Linked DNA regions of Homo sapiens: region 1 is linked to region 2. The links come from fine-mapping of genetic effects on gene expression. Tissue or cell type: sigmoid colon. Region 2 holds a variant in brackets; the other region holds the start of a gene. All regions are shown on one strand. Distances are between the middles of the regions.

Region 1 (7,168 bases), 70 kb after region 2:
ACAGACCCTCCCCCTACTCTACTTTTCTTGAAAACATGTGTGCACCTTCCATGCCTGCTGTGTATTTTTTAAATTGTCTGTCTCCTCCACTAGAATGGAAGCATCACAAGCACAGGGATTTTGTCTGTCTTGCTCACCACTGAATCCCAACAGTGCCCGAAAGACAGTTGGTGTCTTTGATAGGGTTATACTAAAATTAGACAGACTTGAGTACATGTCGTTTATTTGGGAGAGGAGGAAGAAATGAGAAGAGTAAGACAAAGAAGGAGGAAAAAACAACTAAAGAGATGTTATCAGCTGGGCTTGGTGGCTCACACTTGTAATCCCAACACTTTGGGAGACTGAGAAGGGAGGATTACTTGAGCCTAGGAATTTGAGACAAGCCTAGGCAACATGGTGAGACCCTGTCTCTACAAAAAATTAAAGTATTAGCAGAGTATGGTGGTGTGCACCTGTGTTCCCAGCTACTCAGGAGGCTGAAGTGGGAAGATTGTTTAAGCCAGGAAGCCGGGTTTGCACCACTGCACTCCAGCCTGGGTGACGGAGTAAGACCCTGTCTAAAGAGAGAGAGGGAGAGAGAGAGAGAAAAAAAAAAGAGAGAGAGAGCTGTTATCAAGTTCACCGATACAGGCAAAGGACCGTTGAGAAGTCTTTAGAAGCTTCCAGAAGGGTTCATACAGAGAGACTGGGGTTCCCATTCCCCACTGGCTGAAGATTGTCTTTCGGGGAGATAACACCCAAACTTACAGGCTGAACCTCTGCAAGGGCTGAACTTTGAAGGAGATAAGCCAAGAGGGGTGCTTTGAAAGCTTGAAGTGGGAATGCTGTCTGCTGAAAACTGCCCAGCCTGGCTAGGCTGCAGCTGAAGCCAGAGGGAGAACGTGGAACTGTGGTGAGGAGCACCAAAGGCATCTGCCTCAGGAGACATCAAGCCCATTTTTTTAAGTGAACAAATGGATTATCTTTAATGCGGATATGCATCTGGATTACAGGAATAGTGTCGGCTCCAGGCCTAACTTGCTTAGGAACCATAGTCAGAATAATTAGTACCTGTTGACCCTGTAAGAAGGAAAAATCATGACTATGGCCAAGGAGTTCAGATCCCTTATGTCTTTCTATTTTCCTAGCAGCTCTTCTATCACACATTTCCTGCTCAGAATTTCCACTCCTGAGAGACAAGCGGCTACAACTGCTTTATTTTACAATAAAGAGGCAAGCAGCTCTCTTGATCGTAAATGAGAAAGGCCCATGCACAAGCCCTTCTTCAGCTTCTGATGGTCCCTGTCACCTCTGGCTCTGCACTGGCATTTCCACGCTGGCCTCCTTGGCCCACTTGTCTGGTTCTGTACCAGCTCTTTTTCCTCCACCCACTCCTTCACGCTGTCACTCCTCAGCGGTCTGTCTAGAGGCACCCTGCCACCCATTGCTAGCTGCCTTCCTCAACTCTCCCTATAACTCCCAGGCTGGCAGCCACCACCCACATGCCAGACTCTGGGTCCACCCCTCCAGTGTCTCTCTGCTCAGGACAAAGGCTCCCAAACTCCTCCTAGACTGTCAATGCACAAACGATCAACCAATCCCATACTGGACTCATTACCCGCTCCCCACTGGCCCACTACCACCACGGCCACACTCCAAGCCTGCTTTTCCTTCTGAATTCCCTGTCTTGGATAATACTCTACCACCCACCCTTGTCTCCCAGCCTGGAAACTCAAGGTCAGTCTCAGTCACCAAGTCCGGTTCCCTCTACCAGTTTCCTGAGCAGCAACAGGTTGTTCCCTGGGAGGCTGGAATTTTTCTTCTTTTCTCTACTTTTGTTTTCTGAATGTTCTCTGATGAACACTTATGACTTGCATAATGTTTATTATGTTTCCTAATAATTAATGGGTTTCATAATGGCTTATTATTCTAAAACAAATCTACCTTGATTGTTCCTGCTTGCCCATCCCCGAGGGCCTCCTATCCAGCCCTCCCCTTCCAGTCCCTCTGCCTTTTGGGCATCTTCCATATTACCACCTAGCTCCCCTCACCAAAACATTTCTCCAAGATTACCTCCTACCATCTCCACTCCATAGTCCCCAAATATCAGAATTGTTGAGAAGTGTTTGTCCACTTGTTTGCTTCAGCTCCCCTATTGTATTGTCAGCTCTTGTTCATACTGAATCCCTGGGGCCTGGCACAAAGTAAGTGTTGAATAAACATGAATTAAATGGATCAAGGCCAGGAGTTGAGTAACTGGTATAAGGTAGGGAATTTCTATAGAAATGATCTCAAAGTGTGCTTGGCGGACTAGCATTTTCAGTATGGCCTGGGAACTTGTTAGAAATGTAGATTCTTGGTGGGGCGTGGTGGCTCACGCCTGTAGTCCCAGCATTTTGGGAGGCCAAGGTGGGTAGATCACCTGAGGTCAGAAGTTCGAGACCAACCTAGCCAACATGGTGAACCCTTGTCTCTACTAAAAATATAAAAATTAGCCAGGCATGGCTGCACATGCCTGTAATCCCAGCCGCTGGGGAGGCTGAGGCAGGAGAATCGTTTGAACCTGGGAGGCAGAGGTTGCAGTGAGCCGAGATCATGCCACTGTACTCCAGCCTGGGCGACAGAGTGAGACTCTGTCTCAAAGAAGGAAAGGCAAGGAAAGGAAGGAAGGAAGGAAGGAAGGAAGGAAGGAAGGAAGGAAGGAAGGAAGGAAATGAAGAAAGAAAGAAAGAAATAAAGAAGAAAGAAAGAAAGAGAGAGAGAAAGAGGGAAAGAGGGAGAAGGAGAGACGGAGGGAGGGAGGGGGGAAGGAAGGAAGGAAGGAGGGAGGGAAGGAAGGAAGGAAGGAAGGAAGGAAGGAAGGAAGGAAGGGAGAGAGGGAAAGAGGGAAGGGGAGAGAGGGAGGGAAGGAGGGAGGAAGGGAGGGAGGGAGGGAGGAAGGAAGGGAGGGAGGGAGGGAAGGAGGGAAGGAGGAAGAAAGGAAGGAAGGAAGGAAGGAAGGAAGGAAGGAAGGAAGGAAGGAATTCGGATTCTTGGGCCCTTCCTCAGACCTACTGAATTAGAAGCTCTGGGGGTATTTCGATAACAAGTTTATGTTTCCAGACATGTCTTGCCACAATCACAAATAAGACTCTTTTTCGCAACTGAACTACACAAACCTTAGCAGGCTCGTGGCGAAACCACTGGAAAGCATTTAATCAGCTTCAGCTCTTTCAAACATGTTGCCCATAGGTTGCAGAAACGCAGCTGCCTCTCAGGATTAGAAAGTGGAGCAGCAACCGGAGGCGTCTCTGGGCCGCCCCCCCAACCCCCCCACCCCGCCTCGCCCACTCCACCCTCACACTGGCGTTGCCACAGTCCCTCCATTCCAGAGGGAATTCCAGAGCGGAATACGGATTCCGATTTTAAAATAAGCGCTTCTAAATCTTTCTCCTTGCATCTAAGACGGGTGGGGGAAAGAAAGGGAGAGGAGTTGAGGTCCCAAGGTTCAAGGCCTGGTGATCTCCAGGTCCCAGGCTGGGCGGCCTCGGTGCACGGAGAGGGCGAGGGGCGTGTTGTGGAGCCTTGGCAAGGCGCTGCTCTTCCTCGCGCCTCGGTTTGCGGTCTGTGAAATGGGGTTGGCAGTGCCTTTGCAGGGACGCGGCGAACTCAAGCACCAGCAAGCGGACTCGAACTCAAAGGGTTTCAGGGTGTAGACGACCAGAGCGCACTGAGGGGCTCCAGGTCGGCCCGCTCCGGAGCCGGGAGAGTAACCGCGTGCAGGGAAAGGCGCACGGCAGCCTCGGTGCCTCCCTTCCCTCCACCGGACGGGTGACTGACTAGGGGTGAGGTCCTCACCTCCAGGCTGCGCAGCTGAGTTCTGGAAGGTACTGTCCTGGGGGTGTGAGTGTGTGGGCCCTCAGGAAAGGTGCGAGGGGCGGATGCCGTGGTCTACCCGAGCTTGCGGGGGTGCGGTGGTCAAGTTCCCCAGGACCCTCGCTGGCGCCGCTTGTCGACAACGGGGAACAGTGGGCGCCGCGGGTGGTGGTAACTTGGCCCGGGAAGAAAACACATCCCTTTCCCAAACCGGATTCCTCTGAGCAAAACCAGATGGTGTCATCCGCATTTTACAGCTGCGTCAAGAGAGGCCCAGGACACCAAGAGCCAGCTGTGGCCAGAGCCCTTTCACTGACCCAGAACACTGGCCCTCGGAAACCTGGAGAACTGCGAGGGCTTTTAATGCGGCTGAGAAGAAAGTGAAGACCCCGACTCCTCCTCTCTCCTTCGAAAGAGCCGACACAGGTATGAAGACCAGCGCCTCGGACGCTCCGGGGTAGGGGGCCGACGCCCCCTCCCTTTCAGAATCACGCCTTGCTGATGCTCAGTCCTGCCCAGTGTCCACCCCCCACCCCCGCCCCCAGTTTCCTTTCTAGCCCCTCCGGTCCCCAAAGCGAACTAAGCTAGCGGCAGCTTCTCCATCCCGGAGGAGACTCCAAACTCCTAGGTTTCCCACCTTGGAGAGTACTGCTCTGGAATGCGCAGGGGAGCGGCACCTGGAAAGGGTTGGGCGGAAGCTTCTCGGACCCAGAGGGGGCGGACACCCGGCACCGCGCGTGGGAGGGATTAACTCCACCCCACTAGACCACCTCCCCCTCTCTCCCAGGAGCCACTTCAACCGGTTGTCGCCCCAGTGGCCGCCCTCTGAGCACGTGTTACTGCCAGTCTGCGTCAGCGTTGGGTAAATACATGACTGGCCGACGCCGCCGGGTGGGGCTATTTAAGAGACAGCCGCCCGCTGGTCCTCCCTGAACTTGGCTCAGCTGCCGGGCTGCTCCGGTTGGAAACGCCAAGCCAGCTGCGTCCTAATCCAAAAGGTAGGTCCCTCGGTTCGTCAGCGGGGGATCCAAGTGTCGTGTGTCTTTGAAGGATGCTGTCTTCAGCTTTGTGCCCATTTCCATTATGCTTTTCTATTTTCTGTGTCTTCCCTCCGAGAGCTCGAAAGACATTTCTTGAAGTCAGAAATAACGGCTCTGGGTCTAAAAGTGAGGTCTGGGTGGGTAGAGCTGCTTTAGAGCCTTTCATACGCCAGCATCATTAAGGGATGAACTACCCATTCGCTAAGATTCGCATGCAGATTGAGTTTGCTAGCTGTTACACAGCGGTGCGGGGGACTTTGCAATCTTTTCTAATAAAATATTAGAGGGTTTTAAGATTTAAATTCATTTTCTAAATACTGCAGAAAATTTCGAGGCTTTACGGATAGAAACTTGAGGGTGTTTTATCCACTAGCGATCTAAAATGCACGGGGCTTTCGAAGCCTGAGCGCTGGGCACATATTTCTGATTTTAAAACCTGCCTATGTTCTGCGTAGTGGCTTATTGCCATTTCCCACGTACACTTTGAGAAAAACTTTATAAATACGGCTTTATTTATTGCTCCTACATTTTAAACTGTGCTTCTCTTTTTCATCATTTACTGTATTTCCATATTGAAAGCTTGTTAGCTATCTGGAAAAGTGCTTTCCCCAGGGTTCTCATTTCTCCCACGGAGTCTTCCCTTTAGGATATTTTTTTCACACTATTTTTAATCTCGTGGGGTTTTATTTTTCTTCTTTCGGTTAGAAGAGAGGCACTCTGCAAACACTTCCTCAAACTTTAGGAAAGCAAAAACATTCCTTCTGCTCAACACGGCAGAAAACAGGGTCTCTGCCCCTTGGCGCTGGGTGAGGAGTTCCCAAAGACCAGCCAGGTGCGCCCGGGGGCGCGCGCCATGGCACTCGGCTGGGGTCAGCGCTTGGCGAGCCCTCGTGCTTGCGGCGGCCTGGCGGGTCTGGAGCACCTGTGTTTGTCCTAAGCCCGCTTCTGGGTGCCCGGCCCGCCGCAGGAGCTCTGTTGCCCAGCCTTTCAGTTAACGCGCCCTCCTCCTTTGCTCGCTACAGCCATGAACAGCGGCGTGTGCCTGTGCGTGCTGATGGCGGTACTGGCGGCTGGCGCCCTGACGCAGCCGGTGCCTCCCGCAGATCCCGCGGGCTCCGGGCTGCAGCGGGCAGAGGAGGCGCCCCGTAGGCAGCTGAGGGTATCGCAGAGAACGGATGGCGAGTCCCGAGCGCACCTGGGCGCCCTGCTGGCAAGATACATCCAGCAGGCCCGGAAAGGTAAGAATGCTGCCTCCCCATCCCTCACTTCTGCCCTTGTTCCCAGGCTCCCGATGCTGACCCTCTTCTCTAGCGCTAGCCTGATGGGGATGACCTCTCTCGGTAGGAAACAAGCAACATGATTTCTGGCGGTCCTTTGTAGCAATCTGAGAAGGGGTATGGAGGACTTAATTTATAAGTAAGGGGAACCTTCTTGAAAAGCTTTCTTTGAACTAATTTTTAGCAGTGTTGCTGATTAAGTTCAACACCATTTTACCAAGCCATTAAAAGATAATTATTGAAGCCTAGGAAAGGGTTCCTAGATACAGTGAATACCCTCTACTGAAAACGCAAAGGACCTTGGAGCCACCCAGATACCAACCCTTGGAAATCCTCTAGCAGGAAGGGGTCAATGCTGAGAATGCCTGAGATCTGGCTACAACAGTTTAAAAAAGCAGTGACAATGTGTCCATTTCCACCAAAGTATGTAACAGAAGGAAAGAATCAGCAGCAGTTTTGTGTTCTCCTTGCAATGACTTACAAATTATTACCCAACAAGAGAGGTATTTGTTTTTACTTTACTGTTGCAGAGATGGTCACAGTTGTAGCAAGAGCTGAGCAAGTCAGTTTTCTCAGCATCAAAGTCTTTCTCCAGGAATAAGGTGATTCAGCAGCTCACTAGCCGAGTGGCATGCAGGCAATTCTGACCTGAGGCTAGCTTTCCCCTAAGCTCCTTCCAATTCTTTGTGTGATTCAGAGGGAGGCCCATTCATCTCTTGTGACCCATAGGAATCATGCTTTGGATTGGGGCAGCTTTTTTCTGCCAACTTTATCCCCAGTGACACTAATGATGAACACCGGCTGTGGAGCAGTGTGCTGAACAGTACAAACACAGCTGGACATTAAAAGAATTCAGCAGGCCAGGAGCAGTGGCTCACACCTGTAATCCCAGCACTTTGGGGGGCTGAGGCAGGTGGATCACATGAGGTCAGGAGTTCGAGACCAGCCTGACCAACATGGTGAAACCCCATCTCTACTAAAAATACAAAATTAGCTGGGCATGGTGGCACATGCTTG
Region 2 (7,735 bases):
CTCTGGGAGCCAGTGGGAGTAATGAAATAGTGTGCCTGGGGTGTTCATTTTGTTAATAGATGCCAGTCACAGGGTACTTATTTTCTGTGCCATTTATAAAGCCTTTGACGGACAGTGCTGCTTGCGTCAGTTCATACAATTATAAGATATAAAGGATATTATGGTAATTCTTTGGAATGATGTTCATTTAGTATCTGGTCATGAGAATGCGGTTCCTCCTGTTAGTGCCATATTCCAGCAAATGCAATAGGCAGCTTAGCAGGGGCTCTGAAAAGTGTACATATTAACTTTGGCTCAGACACCAGGGATACATTTTGCTGCCATTTAAGATTAATTATTTGTAATATGTTTGTTAAGAAAATTGTTTTAAAATTTTATTTCTGTCTCTCAATTTAGGAGTGATAGCTCCTAGATTTCAATCACATAGACTGAATGACATATACAAGGGTTTTTGAAGTATCTGAGATGGACAAAGCTCAAAGTATGTTTTCCAATGGCAAAGGCAGAACTAGATCCACTTTTTTCCAACACAACAGCCAGGTTTCCAAGAGCAAATGAGCAGTGAGGTGAGGTGAACATAGAAAAGTGAAAAGATAAAACTAGCTAGTTGTTTTGTTAGAGGGACAGAGGATATATATATAAGCAAGGTTCTTTGGCCTGAAACCAAATTCAGCAACTCAACCATATTGACTTTTGCCCATATTTATTTAGGTTGAGCCCTATAAAATTCCTGATATTATACTGGTTTTGACCAACAACGTCAATTATTGCATATGCTTCAACCTAATGCTTCAGAAAGAAAGTCATGGCCACCTAGAACTTGGCATAACCTGCAACTGCCTTAACTCCAAAGCCTTAAACGTCATGGCTGCAGCCTCCTGTCCTCTAAACCTCTCATTTCCTCACCTCTATCACAAATCCATGTAAAGTCAGATTGGTTTACAGCTCTTCAGGCCCAGTGAGCCACAGGTCCCCTCGGCATCTTTGCAAACAACTCCCACAGATACCTCAGTATAATTATTTTTAAAATATGTCCAGGAATTTTTTTCCTTAAGCCACGAGGCTTGCCAAAATACTTCGTAGAAAATACTATTTTGATAGTATTAGAATTTTACCAATGACTTAAGCAAGAGGCACAAAAGTGGAATGACCTCCAACTATGAGTTTTGATGAAAGTGAAAAATGCTACCTAAGCCAAAACCACTAGTTCAGGCATTCAGCTTTCCCCTGTCTTATAAAATCCCAACCCCACTTTAATCTAGGGTCAGCTGTCCTCTAGATGCTCTCTGATATGTATCAGTTGAACAAAGTCTTTAATCTCTCTGATGTGTATCCGTTGAATAAAGCCTTAATCTCTATTTGAGTCACTTAAATAACTTTCTTTTGACTTTTGATACCCAGAAAAATGGATTTGGAATGCTGTTTGGATTGTCTGTCCTCAAAGCTGTCTATTGGTGTGTGTCCAGTGGTGTTTGGGTGGGTAGAGTGGGATCTGCCTCTCTCTACCATGGTGCTGAGTTTTGTCTAATGTTGCTTTACTAAGAACACTGCTGTACAGGACAGAGCAAATTTGAGGATGGACACTATATGAGTTAGATGGAGCTCCAAGGTGATTATTTGATTACACTGTCTTAGAAACCATTTGAAAGGAAAGAAGGTGGAATGAAATAGGGGCAGAAGGGAATTAAAATATCCTTGGGTGTGCGATGAGTGTACCTTTCAGCTCATGAACTAAGGAGTCCAATAACTAGAACTTACTTTATAGTCCACTACTCTACTTAATTTCCAACTCAAGCCCTGGGCCTGAGGGCTGGGCAACAGGGCGAAACTCTGTCTCTACAAAAAATACAAATATTGCCCTGCTTGGCTACAAGAAAAACAACCTCAGCTTTTCTTGGGAACCCCACACAAGCCTAGGGTCTTTCTAAGGCACTGGGAGTAGGGGAAAGCTATTTGGTCCTCAGTCATCAGTACCTATGGGAAGTCACAATGACATCTGTTATCCTGTCCTCCTGACTCCTTCAAGGCTAGGCAGGTCTCAACTATTCCTGTGCTGGAAGTCTTTCTGAAATGTGTCTTTCTCTGGAATCTTGCTCTAACAGGGCTACCAAAAAAACAGGGTAATGCACCTCTAATCCTGCCACCACAGCACTCTTCTCTTCTTCCCAGCCTGGAACAATCTAATTTTTTTTTTTTTTTTTGAGACGGAGTCTCACTCTACCACCCAGGCTGGAGTGCAGTGGCATGATCTTGGCTCACTGCAACCTCTGCCTCCCAGGTTCAAGCGATTCTCCTGCCTCAGCCTCCCAAGTAGCTGGGATTACAGGCGCCCGCCACTACACCCAGCTAATTTTTTTTTTTTTTTGTATTTTTAGTAGAGATGGGGTTTTGCCATGTTGGCCAGGCTGGTCTCGAACTCCTGACCTCATGATTCGCCCACCTCGGCCTCCCAAAGTGCTGGAATTACAGGCTTGAGCCACCGCGTCCAGCGGGAACAATCTATTTTTAGTCTGGGGAAAATCCTTCTCCTTTCCTGTTTCTTCAACTAAATTATTCTCAGGAATTCACTTCTAAGTATAAAAAGCCAGCAAGACTTCTAGGGTAGTTCTGTTTTCTGACTTGCCACATACCTCCCATGAAGCAATGACCACCAAGCTGACTTCAATGAGGTGAAGGGAAGGGGGAAACAGAGGGAATAAAGAACACATAAATTGATGTATCTTTTGATTTTTACTTCCCTTCCATGATGTCTGCTCCATGCTGAGTCTGGCAACTTGGGCTTTGGAATTTACTGATTGGGTAATGCTCCCTGGAGCTGACAGTGGGTGCCCCTGCCCAAAGGCTTAGACAGCAATCAGGGAAGGGTGGCCCTCCAAAGTGAGTGTTATCATAAAAGAGGCAAAGAGAATTAGGGCGGCAGTAAAAACTTGGTAGAAGACTAAGCAGTGAATCTTGGTAGTCTTTTGTGACCTTCTGCCATCCCATAATGGTTGGATGTTTCTCCTGTGCCCCCAGAACACTTTCTTCTATTGCCATAGACCACATTCTACTGGGATGGCCATCTATCTTCATTCCAGCCTCCTTCTATATAGAAAGGAAGTTCCTGAGCTGAGGACCTATATTTGTTCATCTGGATAGCATAACCCCTAAAAGATGGAGACTGAATGAGTACAGATGGAATGAGTAACTCCTTGGAACATCATGGACTCTGTACCAGCCACAGATGACTCGCATACCCTGGGTGAGCAAGGCCTGCAGATGGAAACTGTGGATAACAGCAAACTGTGTTGCTCAACAAAATGAAGATCAATAGATAGGAAGCACAGGCCAAAGCAAGCCAGACAAAATTTAATGCTCACAAATATAAAATCATGGATTTGAATTGTAAAATTCAGCTGGAATAGAGGTGATATGACTGAAGAGCAGCCACAAATAAACAGCCAGATGAAGGGACACATTTGAGAAGGCCTAGAATTGTCCTGAGCACAGGAGTGTCTGTCCCCATGGAGTTGAGGTGTGCTTTCCACAGGCACTCCAAACTCTGTCCTTTTGGGCTTTTATGGGGGCTTGATTAGCTAATTGGCCTTTAGTGAAATTAACCTTTGGCTCCTCTCCTCCCAAGAGGTTATGGGTGGGCTGAATAGTCTCAACCCTCTTAATTGTGCCTTGGTCTTCACTGTGATGAGCCCCCATCCTGAAGCTACCTAGGGGCTGCCAGCCACCAGTCTCAATAGCATACCTCGCTTTGGAGATTCTAAGGATATTAGGAGTTGTAAGCCAGAGCGTGGGAGCAAGGGTCAAATATTTAGTTCACACTACCACAGATGGGTCCCAGAAACTTCTTAGTAAATTCCCATTTTATCTAATCCATTAAAAGCTTCATCATAAACATGAAATTACTT[G/C]AATTTTTAAAACAGTAACAGTAGAAAACCCAAATGCAGTGCTAATTAGATATAATAGCAATAAGTATTTTTAAATAGCATATCCAGAAGAGAGGTGGTGGTTAATATGAGAGTGTAATTAATCCATTTGCTGAATTAATTACCACTTTCCTCATCATCTGGGCTAGCAGAGTGTTAGACAAATAAGACGAACATTGTCAGTCAAAACATAAATATTAGAACCAACCTAAAAGTGTAGATGAATAGTTAAATAAATTATTCATGAAATACTCTGTACCTGTTTTTCAAAGTGAGATGGAGTTCCTTGCTGTGCCCTGAGAAGGTATCCAGGATTCTTAGTCCCTGGCAACAAGACGTCACCAAAAATAAAAAAATAAAAAAAACGTAAGAGAATCTACAGGATGGAGTACAGTGGCACAATCATAGCTCACTGCAGCCTTGACATCCTGGGCTCAAGTGATTCCCTTGCCTCAGCCTCCCAAGTAGCTAAAATTACAGGTGTGCTCCACCAGGCCAACTAAGTTTTAAAATTTTTTTGTAGGGTTGGGGTCTCACTATGTTGCTCAGGCTGAAAAAAAATAGTAAATAACTAAGTAAATACATTGTTTAGTGAACAAAAGTAAACCATACATAGAACATAATTCCAAACAAAAAGGGATACGTGGGTTTAAAGCTTTTTTTTGTATCTGTATAAACACAGAAAATACTTGGATGAATACGTGTCAAATTGCTAACGTGGTTACTTAGTGTCAAATTGCTAAAGTGATTACTTCTGAAAAAGGGATTGCAAAGACAGAGAGAGGGTTTTTCACTTCAGAATAAAAATGTCAGGTTTAGAAGGATACATGCTCAAGGTATGTGAAATGAAACATGCAAGATATAAAACTTCACATCAATACAATCACACTTTTATAAGACATCTAGCATATATTCATTTTTAAAAGTAAAAGAATTTGTAAAAAACTAAGAGTAGTCATATTTAGATGGTGAATTATGACTGATCGTTGTTTTCTTTGATGCTTTAAAAAATTTTCCAAAATGTCTGCAATAAAAATTTATTATGTTCATCATAGACAGACCCACGCTTTTTAAAAGAAAGTTTTTAAAGGAAGCATTACCCAAACTCAGTTTTGTTAATTGAAGGCATGCCCCCTCCCCCTGTAACTAAAGAGGAATTTCTCTGGGTTCCCTACCAAACAAGAAAAATTTTCCCAGTGGCAGGGGATGGAGATCTTCCTAACAACTTGCCGTCCTTTGTAGCTGATGCTCACAAGTACGTGGATGGCAATGAAACAAGCCTCTATGGCTAAGCTTCCCCAGACTTGCTCACTCCACTCCTCATTTATCCATTAAGCCCACATGCTGAGGGCTGTCATGCATTTACAGTGTGTATCAAGCTGCCCCAGCCAAAGTGATTTCTGGCTCATTATGCTACTCCCAATAAATTTGGGGATTGGTCAGCTTCAAAACAAAATTGGGCAAGTTATATATATATATAGGCAAACAACAAAAATTGAGTTCTGTGTGTGTATGTTTATGAAGGGGTGGTACATTCCCAGAAGACAGTGACAGGATAGAATGCAAGTTCCAAAATCACTAAAGATAGGCCCTGACAACTAAGGATCCTCTCCAGGCAGCTTTGCAGGAAGCAATGGAAACAAATAGGAAGAGAAAGGAAGAGAAAGGCACATGCCACATGGCAGTTTGTGAACAATACAAGACAAAACTTTGAACACTGCCCCCTGTCGCAAAATAAATGGGGGCCACTTTTGAGGGGTAAGTTCTGATATATGGTTGATAAATGAATAGGTACTTTATTCATAAGACTAAATCTTCAAACAACAAGAGCAAATAATAGCTAGGTGTGGTGGCTCAAACCTGCAATCCCAGCACTTTGGGAGGCCGAGGTGGGAGGATTGCTTGAGGCAAGACCAGCCTGAGCAACATAGCAAGACCCTGTCTGAAAAAAAAAAAGTAAATTATAAGAGACAAAAAGTTCCAACCTCCTCTTTAGAGCACTGCATTCCAGAAAGCAGTAGAGTAACATCTGCAGTTCTGCAGTGTCTGGGAGGAAAGCGTTGGGACCAAGGACTCAGCATGCACCAATTTTATTTCAAGAGTAAAGAAAATAGAGATATTATCATAAAAGCTTGAACCTACAACAGACAGAGTGTTGTAGGTTCCCAGACCCAGAACACACAAATGTGGGCAGACAGGGGACATCCATGAGACAGAGGATTCCTCCCACAGAGCTTTTCTGGAGACCTTAGAGTTTGATTCCTGGGACTTGAGGTAGTGTGTCCAATATCCAGTAAGGCTATAAACAGATAAAACCTTTCTAGAGTGTGATTTGTTAAATATGGAACAAAAGCCTTAAAATATATGTATACTTTGATCTAGAAATTCTGCTACCAAGAAGAAACCAAGCAATATTTATTTATAAGGATGCTAATTATCATAAAAGAGAAAGCAGAAATATAATAAATGTACAAATATAGGGGACTGGTTCAATAAATTACAGCACATGTATATGTAGTAGTCATTAATGCTGCCCACTGAATATTTCTGGTTGATTCTTCACCTTTGGGATATATCACAGGACTGCATTTCCTGGCCCCTTCTACTTGGGTAAGGTCATGCAACCTATTCTATCCAATGAATTGTAAGCAAAAGTAATATGTGTTCATCCCAATCCAAGTGTTTGGTTAACAGTGCTAGACCTTCAAGCTCTCTGCTCACTCTGCTGCGGTGACCAGCAATGTTCTAAATATGGTTGCTCTGTAAGCCAGGGTCAAGGAATAATGTCAACAGTGACATAGAGCAGCAGAGTCCCCACAAGTAACCTGAAGAAAAATACACTGTGAGATTTGGTGATTGCTTGTTACTGCAACATAACCTAGCCTATCCTGATGAATACAAAGGAAGTATGATGCAACCACTGATAGATATGATCTAGTATATTTATTGACAGAAGCACATTTTCACAGTGTACTGTTACATTAAACAGCAGCTATAAAACATCAAATACAATTTAAATCAGTTTCACATATTATACAAAGTAAAAATACTGAAGAATATTCCCCACATTTTGCTGATTAATGAATTGTGAAACTATGTAAGCCTGTGTGTGTGTGTGTGTGTGTGTGTGTGTGTGTGTGTGTGTGTGTTGATGAGGGAAATCAGTACCTTCTTCCTAAGAGTTTTATGTCATATATTCTAAAAGCTAAAAATGCTAAACAAATTCTGTAATTCCATTACTAATATATATCTAAACCACCTTTCTTACTTATATTTTACCTTTTTTAACTTTACTCACCCTACTATCAGAATGTATACTTGAATACTTTTCAAATGTATATTCTAACTTTCATGTATTTCTTTTTTTGTTTGTTTAAATACAAGGACCTCCTCCTATAGCTCTCAAAACACTTTCTGAAAAGTGGGAAGGAATCTTGTGTTATATATAAAAAATAAATGAGGTGAAACTATCATCTACTTCTGGCTGGAGGAAACTCCCCCAAAGGTCACATTTCAAAATTTTTCAAGTCTGTGGTTTTATTCTCAAAACAGTGTTTCTCTATATACTTTTTTATTCAAAATTTCAACAATGAATATGCATTGTTAATATAATTGGGGAAAAGTTATGTTAAAAATTACTTGGGATGAACCCAGGTCTCTATATTTTAAAAAGACTCTCAGATGATTCTAATTTATACTAAATTTTGGGAACCATTCTTCTAAACCTATTCTTTAAAACCCCTCATCCTTTTTTCAAATTTCAATTAGGATGGTCAAAGAAATATAAGTGAAAGCTGGGAAATAATACTTCCCAA

Evidence for each region. PIP is the estimated chance that this variant, and not a neighbour inherited with it, causes the effect.
Region 1: CCK starts here. The variant in region 2 is fine-mapped to the expression of CCK in sigmoid colon (GTEx, PIP 0.94).

What each region holds. Positions count from the first base shown.
Region 1 is chr3:42,262,361-42,269,528 of GRCh38, reverse strand. It overlaps CCK (cholecystokinin), which reads left to right and starts at 3,344. Exons shown (of 5, transcript NM_000729.6): 1 at 3,344-3,845; 2 at 4,092-4,260; 3 at 4,622-4,832; 4 at 5,897-6,112. The coding sequence starts at 5,899.
Region 2 is chr3:42,331,801-42,339,535 of GRCh38, reverse strand. No RefSeq gene overlaps it. Among named protein-coding and RNA genes, the nearest start is that of CCK, 69 kb to the right of the region's middle. The variant G/C (reference allele first, on the strand shown) is at 3,903.